Linked DNA regions of Homo sapiens. The protein of the gene in region 1 purifies or fractionates together with the protein of each later gene. This does not show direct contact. Each region holds a gene or a part of one and is shown in the gene's direction. Other genes may lie near its edges. The genes, in order: GOSR1, NAPA, STX12 and SEC22B.

The links.
Region 2: the proteins of GOSR1 (region 1) and NAPA purify together in Homo sapiens (affinity purification with mass spectrometry; 3 studies listed by BioGRID and IntAct, with this or other methods). This does not show direct contact.
Region 3: the proteins of GOSR1 (region 1) and STX12 purify together in Homo sapiens (affinity purification with mass spectrometry; 5 studies listed by BioGRID and IntAct, with this or other methods). This does not show direct contact.
Region 4: the proteins of GOSR1 (region 1) and SEC22B purify together in Homo sapiens (affinity purification with mass spectrometry; 3 studies listed by BioGRID and IntAct, with this or other methods). This does not show direct contact.

Annotation. Positions count from the first base shown.
Region 1 is NC_000017.11:30,473,200-30,480,747, forward strand, and holds the start of GOSR1 (Golgi SNAP receptor complex member 1), read left to right. Parts: upstream 1-4,208; 5' UTR 4,209-4,234; coding exon 4,235-4,265; exon of another isoform or gene 4,266-4,613; coding exon of another isoform or gene 4,614-4,794; intron 4,795-7,548. UniProt on the Homo sapiens protein: Involved in transport from the ER to the Golgi apparatus as well as in intra-Golgi transport. It belongs to a super-family of proteins called t-SNAREs or soluble NSF (N-ethylmaleimide-sensitive factor) attachment protein receptor.
Region 2 is NC_000019.10:47,504,433-47,512,113, reverse strand, and holds part of NAPA (alpha-soluble NSF attachment protein), read left to right. Parts: intron 1-7,681. UniProt on the Homo sapiens protein: Required for vesicular transport between the endoplasmic reticulum and the Golgi apparatus. Together with GNA12 promotes CDH5 localization to plasma membrane.
Region 3 is NC_000001.11:27,775,688-27,783,368, forward strand, and holds part of STX12 (syntaxin-12), read left to right. Parts: intron 1-7,681. UniProt on the Homo sapiens protein: SNARE promoting fusion of transport vesicles with target membranes. Together with SNARE STX6, promotes movement of vesicles from endosomes to the cell membrane, and may therefore function in the endocytic recycling pathway.
Region 4 is NC_000001.11:120,166,376-120,174,056, reverse strand, and holds part of SEC22B (vesicle-trafficking protein SEC22b), read left to right. Parts: intron 1-5,107; coding exon 5,108-5,217; intron 5,218-7,681. UniProt on the Homo sapiens protein: SNARE involved in targeting and fusion of ER-derived transport vesicles with the Golgi complex as well as Golgi-derived retrograde transport vesicles with the ER.

The DNA of each region.
Region 1 (7,548 bases):
GTGAGTGGATTGGCTTGAAATGGAAAGACTTCTCGTCAAGAGCAATTAGAAAAGCTAAATTTTATTTTAAAAAAAAACTGTTTGAAGGATTGGAGAACTACTAATGTAAGAAGGACTTATAGGATCAAGATCCCGGAACAAAAAGAGCTGAGAGGTGAGCATGATGGTAAAACTTTCACCTCCAGGTATGTTTCAATTCATAGGTGACAGAAGAGAGGCCAGGCAAGAGACAGAGAACTCAAACAGAAGTTTTAGGCAGTATCACTGGGTGGAGGAAAATATGAGGTTAGCACCTGTCAAGGAGGTGGCACTGGTAAACAGTCTTCCAGTTAGGAAACCTGAATGGCTAGACATTAGAATTAAGGGTTAACCAAAAATAGACCAATTTTAACAAACACAGAATCCCTCTTGGTATTAGTTCCACCCCATACTGGATTAAGCTGATCTGCCCCTACCTGAACTGCCTGCAAGAAGAGGCAGTAAATTCTTTCTGGAGAAAGACAACATCATCTAGATCCTCAAATGATTAATACAAAGTTGTATCTATAATATATAGCATCCAATCAAAAGTTCTTATTATCAAAAGACAAGATTAAATTGTGAATGATCAAGAAAAATAGAAACAATCCTATGGGAAGTACAGATTTCTCAGTTATCAGAAATTTTTAAAGAATGATGATGGGCCGGGTGCGGTGGCTCACGCCTTTGTAATCCTAGCACTTTGGGAGGCCGAGGTGGGCGGATCATCTGAGGTTGGGAGTTTGAGACCAGTCTGGCCAACATGGAGAAACCTCATCTCTAATAAAAATACAAAATTAGCTGGGCGTGGTGGTGCATGCCTGTAATCCCAGCTACACGAGAGGCTGAGGCAGGAGAATCACTTGAACTCAGGAGGCGGAGGTTGCAGTGAGCTGAGATCACGCCATTGCACTCCAGCCTGGGTGACAAGAGCGAAACTCCGTCTCAAAAAAAAAAAAAAAAAAAAAAAAAGCCGGGCGCAGTGTCTCATACCTGTAATCCCAGCACTTTTGGGAGGCTGAGGTGGGAGGATCACAAGGTCAGGAGTTCGAGACCAGCCCAGGTAATATGGTGAAAGCCCATCTCTACTAAAAATACAAAACTTAGCCAGTGTGGTGGCAGGCACCTGTAATCCCAGTTACTTGAGAGGCTGAGGCAGGAGAATCCTTGAACTCAGGAGGTGGAGGTTGCAGTGAGCCGAGATCGTGCCACTGCACTCCAGCCTGGGCGACAGAGCAAGACTCTGTCTCAAAAAAAAAAAAAAAAAAAAAAGAATGATGATGAATGAATTCAAGAAAGTAGAAGACAAGATGAAGAATTTTAGCAGGTTTTTTTTTTTAAGACAGGGTCTTACTCTGTCACCCAGGCTGGAGTGCAGTGGTGTGGTGATGGCTCACTGCAGCCTTGACCTCCAGGGCTCAAGCAATCCTCCCACTTCAGCCTCTTGAGTAGCGGGACTATAGGGCGCATCACCACGCCTGGCTAATGTTTAAATTTTTTGTAGAGATGAGGTCCTACTATGTTGCCCAGGCTGGCCTCAAACTCCTGGACTCAAGCAATCCTACCACCTCAGCCTCCCAAAGTGCTGGGATTAGAGGCATGAACCACTACATCCAGCCCGATAATTAAAACATTTAAAAATTAAATCAACAATTTCACTTCTGGACAAAATGGATTAGCTGTATTTCTTTCTATTTTTCCCACTAAGCACAGCAAAAAAAAAAAAAATCATATATATATATTTTTAAAAAGACTCAAAAAGGTGGAAAGAAGAAGGCAGACCAGCTAAGGACCTCAGAATGTAAAGAACATGAAGGTGAGTTCCCTGGGTTTCCTTTTTGTTTCCTATGTCCTATACTGGGTGCTGGAGAAACTGGCAACCTAGAAATGCCAAAGGGTGCAGACAAGAAAAGTCCAAAGGAAAATGGAAAGCCTTCTCTCTCCAGACAAGGGATGAGGAAACAGGTATCCTAACAAGACAGAATACTTTTGGACAATAATTTCACCACTCTGGACAAATGCCACAGAAAAAACTGAGGCCCATCTTCACTCCTTGCCATCAAAGGCTGAGTGAGGAGGCTAGGCTTCCACACTCACCTGGCTCTAATGAAGCACTCCACCCATCCCCCACTTGGACTTCTCGTCCATTGCACAGCAGCAATGAGGCTCCCTGCCATGGTGGCAGTGGGGACCACATGCGGAGCAGTAACAAGGCACCCCCTCCCTGGGGAATCAGTGAAGGCCAAGGGAGAGCCTGAACTTCCACTGCCACCTGGAAGTAGCAAGCATTTCCCTATGTCCCCCAGCAGCATAGTGTCAGAGGAAGTCTGCTTAAACAGAAGACATAAATAAGATCAGAATCTCATAACAAATACCTGAAACATCAGGATACAATTTATAAAAATTGTCATTCCAATAGCCCAGAGAACTTCGACTTGAGTGAAAAAAAGACAACAGACCCCAACATCAAGATGACACAGATGTTGGAATTATCTGATGAGGACTTTAAAGCAGCTCTAATAAAAATACTTTAGTGAGCAATTACAAACAAACTTAGAACAAATGATAAAACGAGTCTCAGCAAAGAAACAGAAGATATAATGAGGAACTGAACAGAAGTTTTAGATACGAAAAATGCAATAATTGACATGAACTCAACGAATAGGCTCAACAGCAGAATGGAGGGAACAGAGGAAAGACATACTTTCTGTCAGCAAATCTGAAGACAGAATAGTAGATAGTACCAAATCCGAATGATGGAAAATAGACTGAAAAAAAATTAGCATAACTTCAGAGCTATGTGGGACATTAACACAAGATCTAGCATTCACGTCATCAGACTCCCAGAAAAAGAAGAGAAACAGTATGAGACAGAAAAAGTATTGGAAGAAACAATGGTTGAGAATCCCCCAAATTTGGCAGAAGACATAAATGTCAGAATCAAGAAGCTGAGGATATCCCAAACAGGATAAATCCAAAGAAATCTACACCAAGGCACATCATAACTTCTGAAAACTAAAGAACAGTTCTTGAAAGCAGTGAGAGAGAAAATGTATTTTAGCTACAGTGGAAAAACAATTCCAATTTTAGTCAATTTCTTATCTGAAACTATGGAGGCCAGAAGGAATTGGCACATTTTTCAAGTGCTGAAGAAAGAAATTGTCAACTTCAGATTGTATATCTGGCAACAATATCCGATCCCCCAAGAATGAAGGGAAATCAAGACATTCTCAGATGAAGAAAAACTAATAGAATTTGTCACCAGCTGATCTACTCTTTAAAAAAAAAATGGCTGAGGGAAATTCTTGAAACAGAAAGGAAACGATTAGAAAAAGGAATCTTGGGACACTAGGAACGAAGAAGAGTAAAATATGCATAAATCAAGTAAGCTTTCCTCTTCTCTTGAATTCTCTAACTTATGCCTGACCCTTGAAGCAAATATTGTAACACTGATGTGGTTCTCCTCAATGAATGCAGAGGAAATACTTAAAAACAACTATATTATAAATGAGTGGGGGAAAGAACTTTACAGGAATTAAGGTTTCTACACTTCACTAGAATTAAGTCAGCACCGGTAGACTGTGATAATTTATGTATCTATAAAGTGTGGGTTTGGACAGCAGATTTTATCAGGTTGAGGGCTCAGGCCGAGAGCATGTAGAAGCAGTTAGCTCACTCTTTCTAGATGTGGCGGCTGACAAGGACAAAGAGGGCTGGGACTAGAACTGCTGTAGACAAGGAAAGCAGCCAGTGGAGAAGAGCGCATACGCCAAAGAACGTGGATGATGGAGCACAGGCGGGGAGGTAGGATGAAGGAAATGGCTCTGGGAAGAAAGGGTCTCTATGTCTGAGAAAGGAAGAAATTGGCTGAAGATACAAATTAGAGACAAGGTGAGGGAAATTGAGGGAGTTGCCTGAGGATGATTCTCCTCCCAGTCAAGTAGGCACCTGCTGAGAGAAAGGATAAGCCGAGATGAGGGAGATGATGATGGTTTGGGGCGCAGAAAGCGGGAATGAAAGACAGGAGCTAAAGCCGAAGTTTTTTCTCTCTCGCTACTTAAAAGCTGTAAGATAACGAATTGATCAGCAGGTGGCAGTGTCCGCGGAGGCTCGCATCCCGTCGGCCCTGGCTCTCAAGGCGGAAACACGCACCATGGTGACTTTCCGGCCTGCATCGCCTCTGCTCCCCTATCCCGGCTGACGTTGGACGACAAAGATGGCGGCAGGGACCAGCAGTTACTGGGAAGGTGAGGGCGAGAAGGCCTCCGGGTGCGTCCTACGAGGGTGAGAGGGGCTGAGTGAGGACAGATCTTGGGAGAAGCAGCACAGGAAAGAACCAGACTCCCGGAGCGGCCGAGCTGAGCAGCGGGGCTTGCCTAAGTGGGATCCCCGGGGCCTTGGGGATACCGAACGGTCTGGGGTAGGGGTCTGGCCTGGCCGGGGCGTGTGAGCGGGACGTGGGGCAGGGGTTGGGCAGAGTGGACAGAGCGGGGATGTAGAGGAAGAGGGCTCTCAATCGCCTGGGTAGAATTGTGTTGAGGGAGTAATGGAACTCGGACGAAGGGGCTTGGGGTACGAACTCTGAGAGGAAACGAATGTTGAGGGAGAAGATCCAGAGCCCCGGAGACTGGAGGAGTCAGCGCATTGGAGCTGAGGTCACTATTGGAAAACTGAGTGGGAAAAGAGAAGGAGGAACTTGCATTCCGGTCCGTCGGAGGAAGTATGAAGAGAATAGGAGACAGAATGTCTCTTATTGGGTCTCCATGACAACTACAGGTTGGGGACTTCCAGGACTGGGTGTTTGAAGGAGGAGAAAATAACTTACCCTTCTGCTCTAGAGTCTAGAATCGGTTTTATTGAAAAAGTTGAGAGAACCTGTGTGAATTGCAGTTACATTTGCTATACTTCTCCCACCAAAAAAACCTTCCTGTGATTTGACAAATGCATTTGTTTAATTCCTGAAACTATAGTCGGATAAAGTGAGCTTACATAAAACTCATTCGTGGATTATGATGATCAACAAGAGCAGAGAAAGCTCACCTTTTTCTCCCAACTGTCTCTTTGCTTTACAGCCGCATAGAAACTACTTTCCAAATTCCTTTGACCTGTTTTTATTGCTATACACTGAAGCCTCTAGAAACCACAGTATTGTCACTATCAGCCCCTTGGTCTAAGAAACTCAATTCTAAATTTATCCAGATTTGCCTATCATACTTTCAAAATGCTTTTACTTATGTTTCCTACTAGAGAAGACAATTATTCCAATCACAGAAAAGCGTGCTTATAGTTTAAAACATGTATTACAATGCCCATTTGAAATGTGTGTACCAGCTAGAAAACTTTTTTTTTTTTTTTTTTGGAGACTCGCTATGTCGCCCAGGCTGGAGTGCGGTGGCGCTATCGATCTCGGCTCACTGCAGCCTCCGCCTCCTGCGTTCAAGCGATTCTCCTGTCTCAGCCTCCTTAGTAGCTGGGACTACAGATGCATGCCACCACGCCTGGCTAATTTTTGTATTTTTAGTAGAGACGGGGTTTCACCATGTTGGCCAGGATGTTCTTGATCTCCTGACCTCGTGATCCGCCCGCCTCTGCCTCCCAAAGTGCTGGGATTACAGGTGTGACCCACCGCGCCTGGCCGCTAGAAAACATTTTAAAATTATGTAGAAGAGGCTACTGATATCTTTATTACTAGTCATTAGCCTGTGGTTTTTTGAAGCAGCATGCTATAATATTACAGCGGCTCATTACTGACAACCTACTCTGTGCCAGCTGCTGTAAGCATATGATTACCAATACATAAGCAAACCCTGAAGGTAGGGGTTTAAAAAACAAGAAGCTGAAGTTCATAGGTTAAGTAGATTGTTGATAAATCATAGAGTCAGTAAGTGGCTGTGCCGAGATTCGAACTGGCATTTGGTCTCTGGGCAAATATGCTCCACTATGTTAACTACGCTTTCTATTTCTGGTTGAAAAGCATATTGAAATAATGTTTTGTATTCTTTTTGAAAGAGAGATTCTTATACCATTACCTCTGGTACTTCTGCCCTTTTATTTTAACCTTCACTTCACCATGAATGAGAATACTCGTATCTGTGTGTGGGTGTCCAGACTGTGGCTTCTGTCACGCAACCCTTAGATGCCAGACTGCTAAACCAATTTCTCTACTTGCCTGTTTGCTTCTGCTATTAAAACTTATGTACTTATTTCTATCATACTCATATTCGACCTTGTTAGTAGCACATTGTTTATTGTTAGTTTTAGCCCTCCAAATTACTTTCAGTAAGTTTTTTTCTTTTTTTTAGATGGAGTCTCGCACTGTCGCCCAGGCTGGAGTGCAGTGGCTCAATCTCCACTCACTGCAAACTCTGCCTTCCAGTGCCTTCCAGGTTCACGCCATTCTCCTGCCTCAGCCTCCTGAGTAGCTGGGACTACAGGCGCCCACCACCACGCCTGGCTAATTTTTTGTATTTTTAATAGAGACAGGGTTTCACCGTGTTAGCTAGGATGGTCTTGATCTCCTGACCTCATGATCCGCCTGCCTCGGCCTCCCAAAGTGCTGGGATTACAGGCGTGAGCCACTGCGCCTGGCCTCAGTAAGTTTTTTAAAGGCGGTTTTTGGCCAGGTGCGATGTCTCATGCCTGTAATTCTAGCACTTTTGGAGGCCCAGGCAGGAGGGTCACTGGAGTTTAGGAGTTCGAGAGCAGCCTGGGCAACATTGTGAGAAAAAACAGAAAAGAAAAAAAGAAAGAAAAAGGCAATTTTTGTGGTAACTTTTTTTCTTTATGTTCAATTGAGAAGTCATTTTGGTCCGGGCGTGGTGGCTCACACCTGTAATCCTAGCACTTTGGGAGGCCAAGGTGGGTGGATCACTTGAGGTCAGGAGTTAAAGACCACCCTGGCCAACATGGTGAAACCCCGTCTTTACTAAAAATACAAAAATTAGCCAGGCATGGTGGTGTGTGCCTGTAGTCCCAGCTACTTGGGAGGTAGTTGAGGCATGAGAGTTGCTTGAACCCAGGAGGTGGAGTATGCAGTGAGCCAAGGTCATGCCACTGCACTCCAGCCTGGGTGACAGAACGAGACTCCATCTCAAAAAAAAAAAGAAAAAAAAAGGTAAGTCATTTTGCTATTATGAAAAGAAGTTCATAAGCCTAATAAAGCTTTGGAACATAAAAAGCAAAATCCCTTTCAAAAGAATAATGGCTTCTTTCTTATAACATTAACTGGTAAGTTGATAATGCTGGTCATAAACCATATTTTTAGTTCCTTTGTGATTTGTATTATCTTCTTGTTTTTCTCTGAATTGCAGAATTTTAGTTATTGCTATACAAATAGTTTCAGGAAGGATAGAACAACATTTGTTTTCTAGCCATCTTTGGAGTAAAGCTGCGAAGTTGCATCTACCATTACTATTTCCCTTCTTGCCCCCTCTGAAGTTTATAAGTGACTAATCTGCTTTGCTGGGCAAGTCCTTGGTTTCCTTCTTTTAAGACTTTTATTTTCCTTTTTTTGAGACATAGTTTTGTTCT
Region 2 (7,681 bases), on another chromosome or scaffold:
GCACTCCAGGCAAGGATTATTATGGAGCATGCCTTAGGAAGATGGAACACAGGGAGTTCCACGTTAGACCATAAAGGTGGAAGCGGCAGGTGAGGCCAGACAAGGAAGGTCTGGTGAGCAAGGGCTGGGCCTGGAGGAGGCACTGAAGATCTCCGAGGAGGCTAAGGGAGGCCCATCCTGGCGAGCTCCTGTTTGCCTTCTAGAAAGGACTGCAGCAGCTGGTGTGGGGGAGAGTGACAGCAGGAGGCTGTTGCAGTGCCGGTAATACTAGCAGATGCTGGTTATTAAGTGCTCGCTCTGACTCAGACCCTGGCCTGGGCCAGGCTCAACCTGCTGATGGATGGTATGGATTTAGTCCTTACAAAATCCCCGTGGAGGTAGAGAAACTTGGGGGCTTAGAGAAGTTGACTTATTTGCCCAGCCCCACAGTAAGTGGGAGAAGTGGCATTCAAACCCAGTTCTGTGTGATTCCAGAGCCTTCTCACTTAGCCCCTTTGCTGTGCTACCACGGTAGTTTCTCCTCAAGGTTCATGACCATCTCTGGGCACTACATTTAGGAAGGATGTTGGCAAACTAGGTGTGTTGGAGAGCTGCCACCCTCTTAACTGTCCTCCCATGGCTGTTTTCTCCAAATATGTGAAAAAAAGAGCTGGTGTGTTCATCTCAGTTCCTTCCAGCTCCCAGAGGAGCTGACCTGGTGCTGTGGGAGTATGAGTGAGGTTAGGGCAGAGGGCAGGGAGGATGGGAGGCTGGCCTGACCGGAGCTTGTGTGCCTGGGAGCTGGGAGCACAGCCAGAGGCCAGCTTGGGAGGACCTGCTTGGCGGGCGGGAATCACTCAGGCACCTCCTCCTCTCTGATCTGGGTTTGCTTGTGTTCAACATTTCATAACCCACCTTTATTCAAGGTCCTTGGTAGCTGCCGGGACTGGAGAAGGGAGCGTTGCGGCTCAGCTTGTCCTTGGTGCCTCTCCCTTCCCCTTTGGGAACCCCAGCAATGACAGCATCCCACATTGAGGGGCCTCTGCCCCTGTCAAAGGGCAAGTCAGAGAGCCCGCACCTGGGACGCAAGGCGATGGGTGTCTGTGCTGTCGCCTGCCTTGGTGCTCAGATGCCACCCTTGCTCTTCATTATTTCTGGGCTGCCAGACGCTAGGGGGCTTTGATGCACCAGCAGCCACTGAAGGCGACAGCACCAGCCAGTTAGGAGAAGCTCAAAGCCATACCTGTTCCTCCCCTTGGTGATGGGGGCGCAGCTCAAACTTCTGCTCTGGAAGCAAAAAGACGGAGACTTCCTAACTACAGCACAGTGAGCCAGCAGCAGAAGGGGATGGCTGAGTCCAGGCACACTAGTTCCTCCTCCCTGCTGCGTGTCTCCTGGGGAATCCAGAGTGCCTGCTGTGCCGTTTGGGGATCCTGCAGGTTCTGAATGGCGGCTCTGTTCCCTGGGGCTTTTCCTCATCCCTGATGTTTCCCAGCCACCTCCCCTGTCCCCAAAATAGCCAAAATAAAAACTTCCTTCCTCTTGGATACAAACGTGTAGAGGGAGTTTCTTCATCTGTGAAATGAAAATCATGGTAACTGTTTCCTCAGGTGGTTTTAAGGATAAATGAGACGATGTGTGGGAAGTGGTGGGAGCACGTTGCCTGGCTCTGCTAATGTTTATTAAGGGCTCACTGTCATCTTTATTAGTAGGTATTGTCATTGGAAGTTGAGCTAGAAGTGCTGGAGAAATAGGTGGCAGAGGGTGTTCTGTATACAAACAGTGCATTCCTAAGATCAGATCTTGACAAATCAGTTCCTGTTTGAACTACCTGTAGGCAATAACGGCGGGACCCTGGGAGGGCCAGCTTGTCTGTACAGGGCCTGCCCAGGGCCTTGGCTGAGACTGGTGTGGGCACGAGCTTCCAGATTTCTCTCCAGACCGCCTTCCTCTGCAGAGCGTGCAGAAACCCCGGCGCCATTTCCAGTGGGCACCCTGGTGAATCACAGTGCCCTGCCAGCTGCCAAGATCCACAACTGAAAACTTGGCATCTCTTGCCCAGTCTCAGAGTGGAGTCTTTCCTGAGGGCACACAAGGTTTCTGGGGAATCCGAGAGTTCCTGGCTTTCCTGATGGATAGGACTTTGCTGCCTGGCCATACAAACATTTCCGTCTCCTTTTTGGGATGGGGCTACTGAGAGGCAAGGGTCTTTGAGAACACCTTTTAAGAAAAAGGAAGTACATTCGCCCTTGGTCTGTGGTGAAATGTAATCCCGTTGGGGTGCAGGAGGGCATCCGTATAAGAAAATAAGAAACAGGGCGCCTGCCAGGCTGTGTGCCGTGTGGCAGGTGAGATCCTGGCTCTGAGCTCATCTCGAAGGGCCGTGGGCCTGTATGTATTTTGAGCATTGTGCAGTAAGGGGTGGGGCATGGGAGGCCAGGACTCTGGAAGCCGAAGGAGGAGCATTACTTAGCTAATCTGGGATGGAGATGAAGCCCATGCTGCTATTCTGAAGTAGGGAAGCGTGCCTGGAATCGGTCCTCTGCGGGGCCTGATGAGAGGGATGCTCTCGTTTACTGAACGCCCGTGGTGTGGCCAGCTCTCTGCTGGGCACGCCGTGGGGTGCTGCCTGCAAGATTGCTCGTGCTTCAGCAGCCCTGCAAGGTGTGGAGTCTTATGCCTAGTTACACATAAGGAAACGCAGGCTGGCACACGATGAGCTGGCGCTGAGGCCAGGCCTGTCTGACTACTGTCAGCATTTATTTTATTTTATTTTATTTTATTTATTTTATTTTATTTTATTTTATTTTATTTTATTTTATTTTATTTTATTTTATTTTATTTTTACCACCACAAGAAACTCTCTAGAATTCCCATTCCTGGGTGGCAGGCACCCCTTTGAGCGTATTTCTCTTCCTTTGTGTAATAGCAACCATTGAGCACCTTTTCCATTCTGCGCTCTGTGCCAAGTATTGACTATGTGTCATTTCTAATCCTCACAAAGACTCCTCCCAGGCCAGATTCATTGTCTCCATTTTATTTCATTTTTCATTTTTTGAGAGACAGGGTCTTGTTCTGTTGCCCAGGCTGGAGGGCAGTGGCGCGATCATAGCTCATTGCAGTCTCAACCTCCTGGGCTCAAGTGATCCTCTCACCTCAGCTTCCCAAGTAGCTGGGACTGTAGGCATATGCCACCATGCCTGGCTAATTTTTAGTAGAGTTGGGGTCTCACTGTGTTGCCCAGGCTGGTCTCAAACTCGAGATCAAGCAACCCTCCTGCTTCGGCCTCCCAAAGCCCTGGGATTGTAGGTGTGAGCCACTGTGGCCAGACATGCTGCCATTTTGTAGATAAAGAATGGAATCTCAGCACTTTGGGAGCAGAGGCAGGAGGATTGCTTGAGCCCAGGAGTTCGAGACCAGTGTAGGCAACACAGGGAGACCCCATCTCTTATTTAAAAAAAAAAAGCCTCAGGGATAACTAGCCCCAGGTCGAACACTTAGCAAAGTACCTGAAACGGACTTCAGCCCAGGTCTCGCCACCCCAAAGTCATTCTCTTTCTACCCCTTGTCTTTGCCCAGACAGGCATGTCACAAGAGGGTCCTGTGGCGATTTCAGAGCTGGGCAGTTAGCCTGTGACACTTTATTCTTTCACCGTTGTTAACTGGGGCTTGTGGAGAGATGGGAAAGCAGAGCTGGGCTCAGGCCCCGCCCTGCAGGAACTCATACTCTGCTTGGTCAGGCAAGGCCCACTGCAGAGTGGCGGGAGGCAGCTGGTGGTTTCCCGCTTCCAGGTGATACTGGTGGCGGTGCCTTCAGGATGCTGAGCCTCTGGCAGCTCCCAGCTCCAGTGCAGTCAGTGGACTAGCAGGGCTGGTGGCCCCCGGCTCCCTGTGCCAGGGTGGACCCTGCACCACAGGCAGCCTTAACTTTTTCTGACGTTCCTTCTGCCTGTTGGCTTGTTACTGGCAGGCTCGGTAGGGGGCTGGCTTAATTCATACTCCTTTGCCTAGAGGATGCTCCACGCAGCCCCAGCAGAGAGCAGCCTCTGCTCGTGAGATGAGGGAAGCCTAGGCAGTACAGGCTCCCTGGCTTCTTTAATCTAGAGGAGGGGTGGGGGCAGGCAGGGACCTTGTCCTCCCTCCTTATTTTCCCAAGGAGCCTTGGGCATGGGGAAGGAAGCCTTCCTGATCACTGAGTGAGAGGCAAGGGCAGGACTGGATCCCCAGGGCCCCAGTCCTCTTTCCAAGCCCTGCTGCTTCCTGGCAGGGTAAGCTTGGACAAGCCCTCCGCCCTCTCTGAGCCCCAGCTTCCTCGCCTGTAAAGCAAGGGCAGCACCCAAAGGGCTCTCGTGAGGAGCTGTGGGCTCCTTCCAGGGGAGTGCCTGGGAGGCAGGGAACGCCATGCGCCAGCCGTGATTAAGGCACATGGTCTCGAGAGCCGTGCAGGAGGTGGGCTTACAGGGAAGACACAGGCATGTGACGGGCCCTAGGACACCTTCCCCACTGAGGGTGCTGACTGGAGACTTGGGGCAGTGGGCCTTAAGTCTGAGGAGGAAACCGTAGGCCTGTGGCTGTGGCTTCCACAGAGGCAAGAGAGATAGAGTGAGTCCAGGACCCGAAATGGGGGCCTGACTTTGTCCACCCTGCCTCGTGAGGTCCTTCGGGAGCTGCAGGTGGTGGGTCTCAGGGCATGGTGTATTTCTGGCAGCCAGGAAGTGCCTGGTGGATGGAGGAAGGAAGGAGGGGGCTAAGACTCTGCCCTGCACAACCCCCTGGCCCAGGTCCCATCAGGCATCTGTGTATTCCTGGCAGTGCCCAGCCTTCCATATGGCAGTCCCTGAGGTTGGTGGCTGTGTTTGGGAGACCTGAGACTCCTTCCTCCGCCTTGGAGGGGGAGAGAGCAAAGCTGAGCGGGTAATTATAGACAGCCCTGCATCAGGCAGCCCAAACCAGTTCCCTCTATTCCCGGAGTGGCTCAGAGCCGTGGGATGGGAGGAGTGAAGCAGAGGCAGCTTGGGGGAGGTCAGTGGGGGAGGGACAGTCAGCTGTCACATGCGCTGCCACCCAGGCCCTCAGGAGAGGAGGCCCAGCTAGATTTTCCTTTCGTGTACTGTTGTTATCTCCTGGCACGTAATAAATGCTCGGATACCTGTTCCCCAGGTGAATAAATGTGTATGTGAATGGCTTCTTCAGGATCTTCCACTGGAACCTAGGCACGTCACTTTCCCCCTTTGGGGACTTCACTCCCATTTCTAAAAGAAGAGGATGGGACCCTGGAGATCTCCTGTCATCCCCTGGCCATGGTAATGGGCAAGACCGCGGGGTGCAGGGGAAGAAGGAGGCAAGCCTGGGGCCTGAGCAGGTGTTAATCCCTCTGGCCTTTCCACCCCACAGAATCATTGACCCCGTGCAGGGTTGGCTGTGCTTAGCCTGGGATCACAGAGTTTCAGCCCGGGCAGCTGGTAGGCTTTGTGTCCGTCCTGAAATAAACCCGGCTGGGCTGACTCTGCTCATTGTTGATTGCCCGCTGTGGGCCACTCAGTGACGTGGGTCATTTCTGCCCATCCAGGGTCTGTGCTTTTTCAGAGAGTGCATGGAGCTGGATAGGACTTAGTCACACTCAAAAAGAAGGGAAGGCTGAGCTGGGGGACCTGTGGGGTGGGCAGACCTGTGATTAAGGTCTGAAAATGTCCCTTTAAGAGAACATTCCAGAGAAGGTCCTTCTGAGGGTTTTTTGCAGCCAGGCCCCAAAGGACCCTTCAGGATTCTCAGCCAGAAGGTTTTGAAAGTTTCTTACCTCTCCAAGGCCAGGAATGGGTTCTAAAGAAGTCATTCCAGGCTGGGCACGGTGGCTCATGCCTGTAATCCCAGCACTTTGGGAGGCCGAGGCGAGTGGACCACTTGAGGTCAGGAGTTCGAGACCAGCCTGGCCAACGTGGTGAAACCCTGTCTCTACTAATAATACAAAAATTAGTAGGGTGTGATGGCACACATCTGTAATCCCAGCTACTCAGGAGGCTGAGGCAGGAGAATTGCTTGAACCCGGGAGTTGGAGGTTGCAGTAAGCTGAGATCGTGCCACTGTACTCCAGCCTGGGCGACAAGAGCGAAACTCCATCTCAAAAAAAAAAAAAAAAAAAAGAAGTCACTCCAAACAAGGCCCAAGGTGTGTTGGGCTGGCTGAGGTGAGGTGGGTGAGGGAAGACAGAGTGCAGCAGGGCGAGTGCGGGAAGAACACATTGCTCAGGGCCACTTCCCAGGGACAGCAGAGGGTGGGGGACAGCATCAGCACAGCCCCAGAAGGCAGAGGGTAGGCTTTTCATCTGGCAAGATGACAGAGAGGATAGGAATAAATAGATTATTTACCTGGTGTGATGTGGATTCAGGAGGCCAGGATCCCTGGCCCAACCAGCCCGCCCACCGTGGGGGCATTTATTTGCCTGCTGACATTGCCAGGCCTGGCCGCTGATCTGATCGCTGGTGGCTGCTTTCCAGGTAGTCGGTCTCAGTCAATTTTTCCTTCTCAAACTCACCTGATCAGCTGAATTACCTGGGCCCCCCAAACCCCAATTGTTAAAAATCTCATTTGCAGGCCCCATCCAGACCCTACTGAGCGAATCCCAAAGTGTGTGGCTGTGGGACTCTGGTTTGATGAAATGAGCACTTCATGTGGCTGAAAGGGATGGGCAGGTTGGACACACTGAATCCGCAGTGCAGAGGGAAGGAATGCTCACATCCCAGCTCCCAAAATTACCTTTGAGCCCCTCCACAGCTGGGGTTGGTGTGGACAAGTTCCCAGGTATAATGTTGGGCCAGTTGACACAGGGTGTGGGATGGGATGGTGAGGATGATTTGAATGGGAAAGTACCCACTCCTCCCTTTTCTCTTCCTTAAAAATAAACTAAACACTAGTTATGCCAGTGAAGAGAGGCCCTGAAATCCATTTGGTGGGACTCCAGAGTGTGTGGATTTTATTCTACTGATTATGTAGATATTGGGAGTTTGAGCAGTTACAGAGACTACAGACCTCGCGGGCTAAGCCTGGTTGTATTATTAAGGGCAGAAGAATGCAGTGGGACTTACGGGTTTGAGGTACTAATGAGGTCCCCCAAGTCAAGAGGAGGCTCATTATGTACATGTGGAGGTCAAGAAGCCAGAGTGAAGCTGCCCAAACAGGGTACCCTTTATGTTTTCAAATTCCTGTCTATCTCCCAGTGTATCCCTACTGTTGGACAATAAGTTTTTGGGGGGTTTTGCTGTTTTAAATAATGCTATGCTGAACATCCTTGTAACTTTTCTGATTAGTTTTTTTAGGATAAATTGCTAGAGATGTAATTCATTGCTGGACCACAGGGCCAAATATAAATCCTAATACTTAAAAATATGTGTGTGTGTGTGTCTGTGTATGTGTAAATGTATAGATATATACACACATATATACACATACACATATATACACATGTGTATATATGTACACGTGTGTGTATATATGTATATATTTTTTTTCTCGAAAAGATGTACAAACAGTTAAAAAAAAATTCAGACAGTACAAATACGGGATGTCCAGTGAATAAGTCTGCCTCCCACACCTGGCCCTCCTTCTGCAGGCTTCACCTTAAGAGAAAAATGCTGTTACTAGGTTTTTGTGTATTTGCCCAGAAATATCCTATGTTTATATAAACATGTATGTTTCTATTATTTTC
Region 3 (7,681 bases), on another chromosome or scaffold:
AAGACATATAAATAACATGCAGGTATTCTGGGAAGAGAGAGATTGTTTTTAATTGAGAAGGCATTATGGCATTTGAGTTATGTCTGGAAAGAGGATGGAAAGATTTGGACCTTCGAAGGTAAAGAGGAGAAGAGCATTCCAGGAGGGAATAAAATGAACAGGCATCATAGTGGGGAAGCATAGAGTATATCTAGAAGAGTAATTTAATTTGGCTAGAGTGGTGGATTCCAGAAAGTAGTGGGAAAAAAGGATTGAAAGGTAAATTGTGGCCCAAACATGAAGGATGTTAAATGCTAAGCTAAGGGGCTTGGATTTAGTTATTTAGGAAAGTGCGAATTGAATTCAAAGGGAGAGACTGGAATCAGAGATACCAGTTAGGGCTGTGAAAATGAAAAGAAAGGAAAGGATAGGAGAGGTTTCCTTGGTGATAGAATTGGTAAGATTTAGCTATTGATTGGGCATTGGGCCTCAGGGGATCATTTAAGTCAACTGTTAGTAATATTAATAGCTAACATTTGAGTACATACTGTGTTCCAGGCAGTATGAAAAGTGCTTTACATACATTATCTTATTTTATAACAACTCTGAAGCACCAGTATCATTTCCATGTTATGTATTAGGAAACAAACTAAGAAAGGTTAAATAGTTGCCCTGCTAACAAATGACAATATCTGAATTTGAAACTAGGTCTCTTATGACCAGCAATTTGTCTTTTTATTACTTTTTATTAATATTACAGTTCTGGGCTGTGCTCAGTGGCTCACACCTGTAATCCCAGCACTTTAGGAGGCCAAAGAGGGAGGATTACTTGAGGCCAGGAGTTTGACACTAGCCTGGACAACATAGTGAGACCCCATCTCTACAAAAAAAAAGTTAAAAATTAGCCAGACATGGTAGCATGTGCCTGTAGTCCTAGCTACTCAGGAGGCTGAGGCTGGAGAATCTCTTGAGCCCAGGAGTTGGAGGCTGCAGTGAGCTGTGATTATGCCACTGTACTGCAGCCTGGGTGGCAGATCAATACTTTGTCTCTAAATAAATAAATTAAAAATAAATAAATCAATAACAGTGCTATAGCAGTTAACACTTCAGGTTTACAAGTATGCAAATAACTTGTTTTTTCACTCTCCAGAGGACACTCTGTGGGGGAAATACCTGAAGCCGTGGTGCTTTCTCTTCTCGTGGTGTGTTCATCTCCTCTGCCAGATTGTTAGCTCCTTTGAGTCAAGGGACATGACTTATTCATCTTTATATTTCCAGTACTTATCTCAGTCCCAAACATATGAAAGATTCATTGATCCACTATGCAACAAATATTCCTGGAGCACCTGCTGTGTGCTGGGGTGAAGCAGAACAAGAGATAAAATCCCTCCCCTGATTGTGTGTATATGTGTGTTTCTGTGTGCGGGGGGAGTATGTATACACACATACGTACATACACATATAAATAATGTCAAGTAATAATAAATGCTATGAAGAAAAAGCAGGGTAAGTGGGTAGAGAGTCAGGGAAGAGGGAGGGTGGGTGCATTATTTTAGTTGATCAAGGAAGGCATCTCTGAGGAGCTGACATTTGAGTGAGTAGACATGTGAATGAAATGAGCAAGAGCTGTGTGAGTAGCTGGGAAAGGCATTCTAGGTAGAGGGCAAGAGCAAGGACTTTGATGTGTTCAAAGAAGAGCAAGGAGGCTAGTTTGGCTGGAGTACCGTTAGAAAAGGGAGGCAGAATAGGAAAAGAGGCCAGAGAGGTAACCAGGGATCACATTATATAGGATCTTGATGCATAATAAATTGTATCAAATTGATTTGAATGAATGAGGCATTTCTACCATTTTGGAACTCTTCCTGCCTCTTTCCCCTTGTACTGTGTAGTACATACCATATCCTATGACCCTAGGCAGTGTGAGTTGAGATTCTTCCAGGCCGGACACGGTGACTCACGCCTGTAATCCCAGCACTTTGGGAGGCTGAGGCAGGCGGATCACAAGGTCAGGAGTTTGAGACCAGCCTGGCCAATATGGTGAAACCCTGTCTTTACTAAAAATACAAAAAAATTAGCCAGGCGTGATGGTGCACGCCTGTAATCCCAGCTACTTGGGAGGCTGAGGCAGGAGAATTGCTTGAATCCGGGAGGCGGAGGTTGCGGTGAGCCGAGATTGCGCCACTGCACTCTGGCCTGGATGACAGAGCGAGACTCAGTCTCAAAAAAAAAAGAAAAAAGAAAGAAATTCTTCCTTTGGAATTGTTTGGTGAGAAATGGGAAATCTGAAATTGATGGGATGACGTTGCATCTACTCAGTTATCAAGCTAGTGCCTATCCCCAAACCTCTCCAAGAGGCCAGCACACCCAAATATACCCTTAGAATATGAGCTCTCAGACATATATATTACCCACACACCCATACAGCCCTGCAAGGACTTGTACCCATTAAAAGTCTGAGAGCATAGTTATTCTTTTTTCTAAACTGTTCAGCCACAGATGTGGGGTTGGAATTGCTGAGCACATCAGCCTGAGATAAGGCAGCTCACTGCGTGGGTTGTTACAGGTACAGCTAAGGTTGACTGCCTGGTACAAGTGGTGATTATCAGTATGTGTTGGGTACAGAAGAAAAATATTTGACTTACTGTGGAACAAAGTGTCTGGGCAAGTATTGCTGAGGCAGATATAGCTGAAAACCTATTAGCCTCAAAGTTAACTCTGAAGGGATTAAAGAACAGCATTTCTGACTGGGCGAGGTGTCTCACGCCTGTAATCCCAGCACTTTGGGAGGCCGAGGCGATCGGATCACCTGAGGTCAGGCATTCGAGACCAGCCTGGCCAACATGGCGAAACCCTGCCTCTACTAAAAATCAAAAAGTAAGCCGGGTGTGATGGCAGGCGACTGTAGTCCTAGCTGCTCGGGAGGCTGAGGTAGGAGAATCGCCTGAACTGGGGAGGTGCAGGTTGCAGTAAACCAAGACCAAGATCGCTCCACTGCACTCCAGCCTGGGCAACAGAGCGAGATTCCATCTCAGGAAAAAAAAAAAAAAAAGAACAGCATTTCTGTTCTTTATGTTGCTAATTGATGTGATCTTGTTTACTAACAAAATAAGAAGAGTGGAGGTCTCACTCTGTCACCCAGGCTGGAATGCAGTGTGCAATCGTAGTCCACTGTAACCTCAAACTCTTGGGCTTTAGCGATCCTCTTACTTGAGTCTCCCAAATAGCTAGGACTACAGGCATATGCCACTGCGCCTGGCAAGTTGTAAAAGTTTTTTAGAGACGGGGGTCTCGCTGTGTTGCCCAGGCTGGTCTTGAATTCCTGACCTCAAACCATCCTCCCACCTCAGTCTCCCAAAGCAAGAAGAGTTGAACATTTAAAATTGATTATTATGAAATCCTTGGGGTTCCACTTTCAAAGTTATTTTCATGTTTGCCCCTTATTTTTTATGTTTCTTTGCTATCCTCTTAAGTATTCATCAGCTCAACATCTGTATTTCAACAGCATATTCATAGTGTCTCTGATTATGGTCTTGCCCCATTCTAGTTTATACTGATGGTGCTATCAGCACTATGTCTAAAGTCCTGTTTTTATTATACTGCTCACTTCCTCAAGAGCCTAAAGTGGCTCTCTGTTGTCTATTGAATCAGATGGTTTTTTTTGTTTTTGTTTTTTTTTGTTTTTTTTTGAGCCAAGTCTCACTCTGTCGCCCAGGCTGGAGTGCCATGGCGCAATCTTGGCTCACTGTAACATCCACCTCCTGGGTTCAAGCAGTTCTCCTGCCTCAGCCTCCCGAGTTGCTGGGATTACAGGACCTGCCACCACGCCCAGCTAATTTTTGTATTTTTATAGAGACAGGGTTTCACCATGTTAGCCAGGCTGGTCTCGAACTCCTGACCTCAGATGATCCACCTGCCTCGGCCTCCGAAAGTGCTGGGATTACAGGCATGAGCCACCGTGCCTGGCCTGAATCAGATCTTAATATTTCACCTTGCTTTCACTCCCTGCGATCTTAACCCAAATTAGCCATATTTTCTACTCTTCCTTACTCTTTGCTAGGAAGGCTATTTTCTTTATGTTTCTCAACTCTATCTTTCAGTTTATATTTTGCTCATTTGGTTCCTCCTTTTTTTTTTTAGAGAAAGAGAGTTTCGCTGTTGTTAACAGCCCAGGCTGCAATGCAGTGGTGCGATCTCGGCTCACCACAACCTCTGCCTCCCAGGTTCAAGCGATCCTCCAGCCTCAGCCTCCCGAGTAGCTGGGATTACAGGCGTGTACCACCACGCCCGGCTAATTTTGTATTTTTAGTAGACACAGGGTTTCTCCATGTTGGTCAGGCTAGTCTTGAACTCCTGACCTCAGGTGATCCGCCCGCCTTGGCCTCCCAAAGTGCTGGGATTACAAGCATGAGTCACTGCGTCCGCCCTTTGGTTCCTCCTTTTTTTAGTATCTTTTCTCTCCCTACCTCATTGGCTATCTAAATTATACAAATCCTCTCAGTTGTGCATAAGTCCTGCTGATAGCAATTAAGTTTTTCTTTGCTTGTTTTTTTTTTTTTTTTTTGAGACGGAGTCTTGCTCTGTTTCCCAGGCTGGAGTGCAGTGGGGCGATCAGGCTCATTGCAACTTCCGCCTCCCAGATTCAAGCAATTCTCCTGCCTCAGCCTCCCCAGTAGCTGGGATTACAGGCGTGCACCACATGCCCGACTAATTTTTGTATTTTTAGTAGAGACAGGGTTTCACCATGTTGGCCAGGCTGGTCTTGAACTCCTGACCTCAGGTGATCTGCCTGCCTTGCCCTCCCAGAGTGCTGGGATTACAGGCGCCCAGCCTTCCTTTGCTTTTGAAAGACAAAGTGAAGTCAGAAAGATCATGGACTCTCCGGGGTCAGCAGATCTGTGACTGAATCCCTCCCCTTCCATGTATTAACCTCGAGCAGGTTATTTTCCCTGCCGTGTGTAACCCCATTTATAAAATGAGTGAAATTATTAAAAGGGGATGTTTGAGGCTGGGCACAGTGGCTCACACCTGTAATCCCAGCACTTGGGGAGGCTGAGGCGAGTGGATCTCTTGAGCTCAGAAATTTGAGACCAGCCTGGGCAACTTGGCGAAACCCTGGCTCTACCAAAAATACAAAAATTAGCTGGGTGTGGTGGCACACACCTGTAGTCCCAGCTACTTGGGAGGCTGAGATGGGCAAATCGCTGATCGCTTGAGCCTGGGAAGCAGAGGTAGCAGTGAGCCGAGATCACGTCACTGCACTCCAGTCTGGGTGACAGAGTGAGACCCTGTCTCAAAAAAAAAAAGGGGGGATGTTTGAAAGTGTCTGGTATACTGCCTGCCTGGCACATAGCAGGCGTTCAATAAATGGTGACATTATTATTATTTTTATTATTTTGAGATGGAGTCTTGCTCTGTCACTCAGGCTGGAGTACAGTGGCGCAATCTCAGCTCACTGCAACCTCTGCCTCCCGGGGTTAAGCAATTCTCATGCCTCAGCCTCCTGAGTAGCTGGGATTACAGGCTCATGCCACCACGCCCAGCTAATTTTTGTATTTTTAGTAGAGACAGGGTTTCACCATGTTGACCAAGCTGGTCTCGAACTCCTGACGTCAGGCGATTTGCCCACTGCAGCCTCCCAAAGTGCTGGGATTATAGGTGTGAGCCACCACGACCAGCCCCAGTGGTGACATTATTAATACTTGTTGAATCCCTTGCCCTGCAATAGTTTAATAGTTAGGTAGGCAGGCTCAGGAGTCATATTGCCAGGATTTGAATCCTAGATCTGCTTCTTACTAGCTGTGTAAACACATTGCTTTACCTATTTCTCAGTTTCCTTATTGTTAAAATGGAGTTAATAATACCTATTTCATAGGGTTGTGATGATTAAATGAGATAATTCATCTACAGTCCCTGCTACATAGTAAGTGCTTAAGAAATGTTAGCTCTCATTTTGGTGTATTTCCTTTGAATTTATAATACAAGCAATTTTCCCTCACAGTTTAGCACGCACTTATATTATATATTCTTTAATTAATTCAAGCTTTTTGATATTGTCACCCCAAGCAGAGAGATCACTGTTAGTTTTGTGGAGACCATGCATTATACATTTGTCTTTAGTCACAGTGCCTGGAACAACAATGCATATATAGTTGGCATTCAATATGTACTTAATTGATTTTATTACTGCTAAGTACATTTTTCTTGGTCTTGAGTTTGATAATAATAGCTATCTTTAATTGAGTGCTTTTATGTGCCATTGTTCTAAATTTAGCTTCGTATCATCTCATTTCATCCTCACAACAACCATATGAAGATTCTCTTATTCTCATTTTTAAGGCAAAGAAACTAAGGCATAGAGGAGTGGAGCCTTTTACTCAAGATCACTTTGCTTGGAAGTAGCGGGACCACGACAAGCATAGGCATAAGCAGTGGTTTTTTGTTTTTTGTTGTTTTGAGAAAGGGTCTTGCTCTGTCACCCAGGATGTGCCAGTAGTACAGTGGTACCGTCATAGGTCACTGCAACCTTGAACTCAAGGGATCCCCCCACCTCCACCTTCCGAGTAGCTAGGACTACAGGCACGCACCACCACGTCCAAGTAATTTTTTAATTTTTTGTAGAGACGGGCTCACTTTGTTGCCCAGGCTGGTGTCAAACTCCTGGGTTCAAGTGATCCTCCCACCTTGGCCTCCCAAAGTGCTGGGGTTACAAACTTGAACCACCATGCCTGGCCATATAGGCGGTCTTAATTCAGAGCTATGCTCTTAACCATTGCATATTCTGAAACTGGTATGGTTAAAGGAAAATTATACCTTTGATATTTAGTATCCATTTTCACTTTAGTCTAGAACTTTACTGTTATGGTACAGTGGCTATTTTTTAAAGTCAGGTTGATGGACACGGTGACTCACACCTGTAATTCCAGCACTTTGGGAGGGCAGGGTGGGCAGATCGCCTCAGGTCAGGAGTTCGAGACCAGCCTCGCTAACATGGTGAAACCCTGTTTACTAAAAATATACAAATTAGCCCGGCATGGTGGTGGGCACCTGTAATCCCAGCTACTTGGGAAGCTGAGACAGGAGAATCACTTGAACCCAGGAGGTGGAGGTTGCAGTGAGCTGAGACCGTGCCATTGCACTCCAACCTGGGCAAAGAGAGCAAAGCTCTGTCTCAAAAAAATGAAACATTTTTTAAAAAAGGTAATTTTCATTGTAGTGATATAAAAACAGAATGTAAACCTAATTTTCAGAGTAAAACACTGAGATGACTTCATTTTCATAATCACCACATAGGCTATCATTTTCTCATTTGGTGTAAATAATGTTTTTTTGTTGTTGAATTTGTTTAAAATACTGACTTAGAGCATTCGATCCTGTCAAATGAAGAGAAATCTTTTTCCCACCTCTGATGATAGTTACTTTCAATATAATTTGACTTTGATTTGACTTTGCTTTGGATGAAGGTTCATTTGGAGATTCAGATTCTGCCGATATCAGCTTAAAGTACAAAAAGAATTTTCAGTTTAGAGTAGTTCCTAGTGTGGATGTTAGCTGTAATGTATAACAAATTGATTTGCTTCATACTCTTTTAAAAGTTTTAGCCAGGATATGCTTTTTTAAAATGAGAGGTCAGCGATAGGAGAAATTGAGTCCTAGTTGTTTGTTTTTTGTTTTTGTTTTTGTTTTTTTGAGATGGAGTCGCGCT
Region 4 (7,681 bases), on another chromosome or scaffold:
CTGTATATTGTGTAGGAGGTCCAGCAATATTCCTGGCCTCTACCCTCTAGATGCCAGTAGTACCACTACCCTTCCCCACTTTGTTTGTTTGTATGACGACAAAAATATTTCTAGACATTGCTAAATGTCTCATGGGGGCAAAATCACCCCAATTGAGACCCAGTGGTTTTTATTAAGTTTTTGTCGACTCAGACAAAAACTTAATAACCACTGTACTTTAGTGCCTAACCACTGTACTTTACTGCCTTGTTCTAAGGCCTTTTAATGATGTCTTACCTCTTAGGAGTCCAGGAATAACTTTTTAATAAACAGATATCTCAACCAAACAGTTTTATATTTAATCACCTTAATTGTCCAGGCCAGATAATTCAATGTATTTTCATTTTTGTATGTTTTTGTTTTCTTATCAGTGTACTTTCAGTATTTACACTGATAATAGATATCATATTTTAGGTATTTACTAGGTGCCTGTACAAGCTGCCATATTACCGAAGATGGACAGTTATTCAGATAATACAATAGAGAGTAAAATTTACAAAATAATGTAGACAGAGTATTTTATACAGGGTGTTTCCTCTGTGTTTAACTGAAAATTTAGACTTAGGGCAGGAAGAGAGATGAGCTTTTCTTCTCAAATGTGGACTCCCTAACTGATACCCTGTTTATCTTTTTTCCTCATTCCTTTTATGGCATGTTTCTCCTTTTAGGATTTTTGCAATTTCTTTATCTACCTTTCTGTTCTGCCTCAAAATTATTGTATTTTCTTTCATTTTCCTCTGGCATCGTGAAGGGCAGTCCAGACTTGAAGAAAGTGTTAGATCTCACCAAATAGGCAGCAGGAAGCTCCAAGAAAGCAGATAGATAACATGTTATACAGTTAAATTGTCTCACGCTCCCAATCACTGAGGGTTGATTAATCCACTTACTGTAACTGCTTTTAGAGGAAAGTGGTTGGTTCTTGGTGCTGCTGGTCTTTGACCAGCTGAGTTCAGTGGGTATTGATACCCACTGAACTCAGCTATGAAAATGATAAAGAGCTATGAAGGCAAAAGTTGTTATTGATACAACTAGTTGTTCAGCAGTCTTAGGTGACAGCAACGAAAAGTATTGTGGTTGTGTGTCTAGTTACTACCTTCTATCTTTTGTAATATATAGATCCAAATCCTACATTTGCTGTTGGATAACCTCAAATTTGTTTCACAGTTTTTCCAGTTATTCTGATCCACTGCATTATTGGATTACTAATAGATATCTCATAATTATATCATATACAAATTTCATTAATCTTTTCTAGATGAAGTAGAAAACACAATGAGGATATCTAAATATTTTTAGGTGGACTGGCTAACTGTGGGCCCTTTGTGACTTTGATCTTGAAAGCAAACTAAAGGTCAGTATGTAAAACAGTGGTTAGGTTGTTTTGTGAGATCTAGATCAGAGCTGCCCCATGGTTTCTTGAGCATTTCCAATGAGTTAGAATTACATAGTAAGACTTCACCTAAAAGGTGGATCTACTATTGAAACAATTTCAATTATAGAGTTAGGGTAGCATAATGCTTAGGAGTAGGGGCTCCAGGGCCAGATTGCCTGCATTCAGATCCTAGTTCCTCCCTTTTTAGCTTAGAGGCTAAAAAGTTTGACTTCTCAAGTAAAAAATTGACATAATAATTCTAATCACCTCATGAAGAATAAACGAGTTAAATAATGTAAAGTGTTCAGAACAGTGGCTGGCAGAAAGTGAACACTTAATAATTTCATTTGATCATTTCTGAAGAATCTTTTCTAATTCCATCTTGCCTTTCTTTTTTTTTTTTTTGAGATGGAGTCTCACTCTGTTGCCCAGGCTAGAGTGCAGTGGTGTGATCTCAGCTTACTGCAACCTCCGGTCCCCAGGTTCAAACGATTCTCCTGCTTCAGCCTCCCGAGTAGCTGGGATTACAGGCACCTGCAACCCTACCCGGCTAATTTTTGTATTTTTAGTTGAGATGGGGTTTCAGCATCTTGGCCAGTCTGATCTTGAACTCCTGACCTCATGATCCACCTGCCTTGGCCTCGCAAAGTACTGGGATTACAGGCGTGAACCCCCATACCCAGCCTCATCTTGCCTTTCTTAAAGGTTCACAGATCAGAATTGCACATAATCGATACACTGGATGCAAATATGTAATGAATGAATGATTTTTCACATTACAAAATTAATTTGTGCATATTGTAGAAAGTTCAGTAAATACATAAAAGCAAAATGACCAAAATGTTAACAGTGTTTATTAACTATAATCTGTACTCAAATTATATCCATTTTGGTGGATGACCTTAAACATATGTATGTGTGTATAACATTAAATAATAGGTAATACCGTAAGACTGTTTCACCTAATTTTTTCCACTTAACAGTGTTTAATGAATATTTTCTCATATCATTAAACTCTATACAGCATTGTTTTAATGGCTGCATAGTATTCCATTGTATGAATATGCCAGAAAGATTATTATTTAACCATGAAGATTGTGCTAGCATTGTGTTCTCGAGGATGGTAATGCTAACTGAACCAGCATGGTAAGGTGTTGGTTGGCATACCATAATCCCTATAAATACATCCCCAGTGTTGTATATTGGCAGTCTTTACATTGCTGTTTGCAAATTCCTGAAATTGCAGAATGCTTTTGGCCAGTTTCTTATAGTTGATACAGTTGTTAGTCTTTTTCTCAGGTTACAGTAATGTTTACAGTGCCTCTTGTAAAGTCAAAGGATTTGTACCAATCTGAGTGGCAATTTTTTCCATGTTTCTTCAACTAGTCCTTTTAAGATTCTCACCTGCCTTTAGCAAAGAACATATATTTAACACCTGTGGTTGCAGTTATGTAAAAAATACCGATATCACAGCCCCACCTCCGAGATGCTGACTTAATTGGTTTGGTGGTGGAGACTGGGCATAAGTAGTTTTGTTTTTGAGATTTCCCCAAATGATTCTATTGTGAAGCCAAGGTTGAAAATCACCGATCTATGTTGATATTATTTCTTGGCACTTGAGCCAAGAAATAATAAAAATATTTCTTTTTTTTATTAAAGAATTTTAAATTAAATTAAATTTAATAAATTAATTTTATTAAATTAAAGAAATTTGCATGCTTTTTATCTACTCTTGTGGGTTCAGATCTCTTCAGAATGGCACTGGGGAAACAAAAAGATTGGTAAGTACCATTCAAATTTAGGAAAATAGAATATTGTGCACTAGTTCTTATTGGCTAAAAGCATATGACAGTATTCACTCTTACTGGCTGGCCATATATTAGTAGTACTGTTTAATATGATAATTTTGATATAATTATTATAAAGTACTGTTTAATATATAAAACTGTACATACATACAGACATACATATGTTAATATAGAACTATTTCTCAAATATATAACAAATATATGTCAATAAAACAAATAATTGCCATAACAGTGGTATTAAACAAGATAAATCTACAAACTAATACCTCAACTGGACTCTGCCTATCTCCCCTGGTTCACCTCATGCTTATTCACCTTCTTATTCTTATTGAAATTTCCAGTTCACCATTTTTACATATAGCTTAGAATCTTATTATCCTGTAATTGTACATTTGCTGATCTGCCACTTTATCATTTTATTGTTGCTTCCTTGTTTTTATTATCAGCTTAGCAGTACACTATCTACAATTTTAAGATATCACTTTGTACTTTATCAAAGTTAGACCTCAGATCCTGGGAGACCCTAGCATAAATACTTTTCTACTTAAATATTTAGTTATTAAACATCTGCCAAAGGGAGGCTATTCTTTCTATGTAAAATAAATAATTCCAAAATAGGATTATTTCTTTGCATCACATGGCAGTGTCCTAGTCTGGTTTACTATACAAAATACCATAAATTGGGTGGCTTATAAATGACAGAAATTGATTTTTCTAGTTCTGCAAGGTGAAGATCAAGCACCAGCAGATTTGGTGACTATTGAGGGCCTATTCCTGGTTCATAGATGTCACCTTCTGGCTGTTTCCTCACATGGTGGATGGAGCAAGCTAGCCCTCTGGGGTCTCTTTTATAAAGGTACTAATCACATTCATGAGGGCTCTACCCTCATGACTTAATCACCTCCCAAAGGTCCCACTTCTTAATACCATCACTTTGGGGGGTTAGGATTTCAACATGAATTTTGTGGGGGATACCAGCAAACATTCAGACTATAGCTGGGTAGCTGGCAGAAAGCTCCCCTACCCCACATGTGGATGGAAAAACAATGTCTATTTGCTTCCCATTCTTCAGGCACTTCCTTTCCCTGTTGGATCTAGTAGATTGGAGATGCATGGTTTTCTTCTTTTGAAATGACACTGCTGGTTTTTCCAGTAGATTTGCCCCCTCTTTTTAACAAAAATAATTGTAAAAGCAGTTAGAAATTGTTCAGGAAAATATTACCTGTAATTATAACATGTGAATGCTATTATTTTCATTTTTGTCTGCATATATCCCTCGATATTCAAACTTTTGCTGTCCAAACTTGGGAACCAAATAGATTTCTTCAGTAAAGGGTATCTGACATCCTAATCTTTGTCTCTACCCTTGGTCATTTTTATGTAATTGCAGTCAAAGTGTTCGTAATAATTTGCAGTCACTAGTACACACATTTAGTTTTGTTTAAATGCTAAAAACTGTAACACTTGTGGAAGGTTCTGCTGGATATTCCAACATAAAAATGAAATTCACCAATCTTGTTCCTAGGATATTCCCCTGAGTATAGCACATGCTGTGTAGTTCTGTGCCAATAACTGCAAATGAAATGGGTTAGGAGGAGAGTACTGTCCTAATAGTGGAAAGAACACTGGATTGAAAGTTAAGAGTGCTTAAGTGTATTTGAGGTATATGCTTTTGCTTCTTAGCAAATAACTAATGCGATCATCTTGAAGAAGTAGGGGTTAGGTCTTCCTCTGTACTCTGAAAGTAGGTTGTCTTTCCTCCGTTAAAATGAATCTTACTTACCTGTAAATGAAGGACCTCATTCAGAGTGTCCTCATAATATGATGCTTCTCACTAATTGATACAGCATTTTGTGGAAAATTCTTAAATGAAGATGTCTTCTTTCAGTCTGGCCGGGACCTTCAACAATATCAGAGTCAGGCTAAGCAACTCTTTCGAAAGTTGAATGAACAGTCCCCTACCAGATGTACCTTGGAAGCAGGAGCCATGACTTTTCAGTGAGTGTAATCTTGATTTCTTTATGATCATTTAAGTGAAATACAGTAACAGAATGCCTGATAAAAAATAATAATTTTTAAAAAGTAAAGATTACTTAAAAATGTTGTCTTTTGGGAGGAGCAACTTCTCTGGCTCTAATTCTACAAAATGGACATCTTGTTGGTTTTTTCAGCATGCTTACAGTAATTTAACCTGTTAACATGTGTCTATGCTGTGCCCATCATGCAATAATAGATAACTTCTTGCTTTAGGACTGTCTTGGAGCCAGATATGTGTAGGTTAGTACCCTTGCTCAAACATTTCCTAACAGTGTAACTTTGAACAGCTCACATAACTTCTCTAAGCCTCAGTTTCCTCTATAAAGTAGTGAAAATAAACATAGGAGGTTTGAGAGGATTGTGAGGGAATCTGTGTGTATTACTTAGCATCTTGTCTGACACACATGGGAAGAGTCAATAATTATTAGTTATTATTATTTTGAAAAAAGAAAATTATAAAAGATAAGAGCATCTTAATCAGTGGTTATAAATGATACAGCTGATAGAGGACTCAAAGGAACATTATTGGATTTTAAATTATCTACAAATAATTGGTATTTAATGTTTAATACATGCCAAGTTTGAAGCTGACAAAATAGGAAGGATTAAAAAGGAAAAGAGTACAAGAGCATCAGAGGAAAATAAAAACGGATTAGTTAAATAATCTTTGCCATTTTAGGGACTTAGATAGTAAGATAACTTAGGCCAGGGAGGAAGCTGCTATGTTTACTTTTAAAAAACAAAACAAAAATTCTCTACCTATAAAAGACAAGTAAAAAGTACATCAAAACAAAAATAAAACCCTAGGCAATTGGCTAAGAAAATGTTGGACATTATGTTTTATGATGTATTAATTTTTATAATATCTGAAATATTTTCTAGAACTCTAATTTTCAACACCAAAAATAGTCACTCACTTAATATCTAGTATCCTCATTTTCACCATGGTTTAGAGAACCAAGACCTAGGAAAGTTCTCATGGAATTGAGAAGAGATTTTCTTCTGCCTGATTCCTTTAGGACATTCATAATCTCATATCATCCTTTATTTCCATCCAAGAGCTATTAAGGGTTTATTCTTTGCCAGACCTTATATTGAGTCCTGCATTTAATGTCCATACCTTTTAACACTGTTCTCTTAGTAGAGAGAGAGACATATACTCAAACAAGTATACTATAATATCTTAATTGAAAAGATGTTGTAAATTAGATTTAAATGAAATGTTTTGGGAACAGAGAGAAGGAAGGAACAAATTCCCATTTGTAGGGGGTAAGTTTGAAGAAACGGGACAGAGGAGGGGAGTATATATAAAGAAGTTTCACAGAAAAAATTATGGTAGAATTGAACATATGAAAATGAACAGGATTTCTCCAGGTATTTAAAAGAGCATTAACGGTTAGAAAAAACAATATAAGCAGAAGTCCACAAATATGTAAAGAACCTAGCATGTTGGAGAACAGTCCGCCATTTGGTTTATTAAAATATATGATAGAATGTTGCTTACACTTGTTTTGAAAGGCTGTAAATATAATACCATGGAGTATGATTTTATTTTGTAGGTATTAGGGAACCCTTAGAGTTTGTAAGCAGGGTAATATGGTCATCTGTAGTCTCTGGGAATAAAACTGATGGTATAGAAGATGGTGTAGACTAAAAGCAAAGAGACCAGTTAACTCAGGTGCCCAAGCAAGGAATAAGACAGCTGTATTATTAATATTATTTTAAGGGGCCTGAGAGATCATATAATAGTCTTTATCCTTTATGGAGCCCTAGGATGCCTCAGGAGCCACATAGAAAGGGCAAGGATGGGAGTATATATAATGCTTTGGGCCCCTAAACTCCTCCTTATGTTTTAAATTTTTCCCTTTTATTTTCAGTTGACATGTAATAATTATACATATTTATGGGATACAGAGTGATATTTCAATACATGTATACAATGTGTAATCAAATCAGAGTAATTAGCATATTCATCACCTCAAACATTTATCATTTCTTTGTGTTGTGAACATTCAAAATCTTGTAGCTTTTTGAAAATACGTGGTAAGTTATAGCTAGCCATATTCACCCTACAGTTCTGCAGAACACCAGAACTCATTCTTCCTATCCAGTTGTAATTTTTTATCCATTAACTTGCCTCTGCCCATCCTCCCCTTCTCTCTACCTTTCCCTACTTCTAATACCCACAATTCTACTCTCTACTTCCATGAGCTCAAAAATTTTTTTTGGCTCCTACATATGAATGAGAACATGCCATATTTATCTTTCTGTGCATGACTGATTTTATTTAACTTAATGTCCTCCAGATTTATCCATGTTGCTGCTAATGATAGAAATTCATTCTTTTTTATGGCTGAATAGTATTCCATGGTGTGTGTGTGTGTGTGTGTGTGTGTGTGTGTGTAAAAAACACTTTTAAAATCCA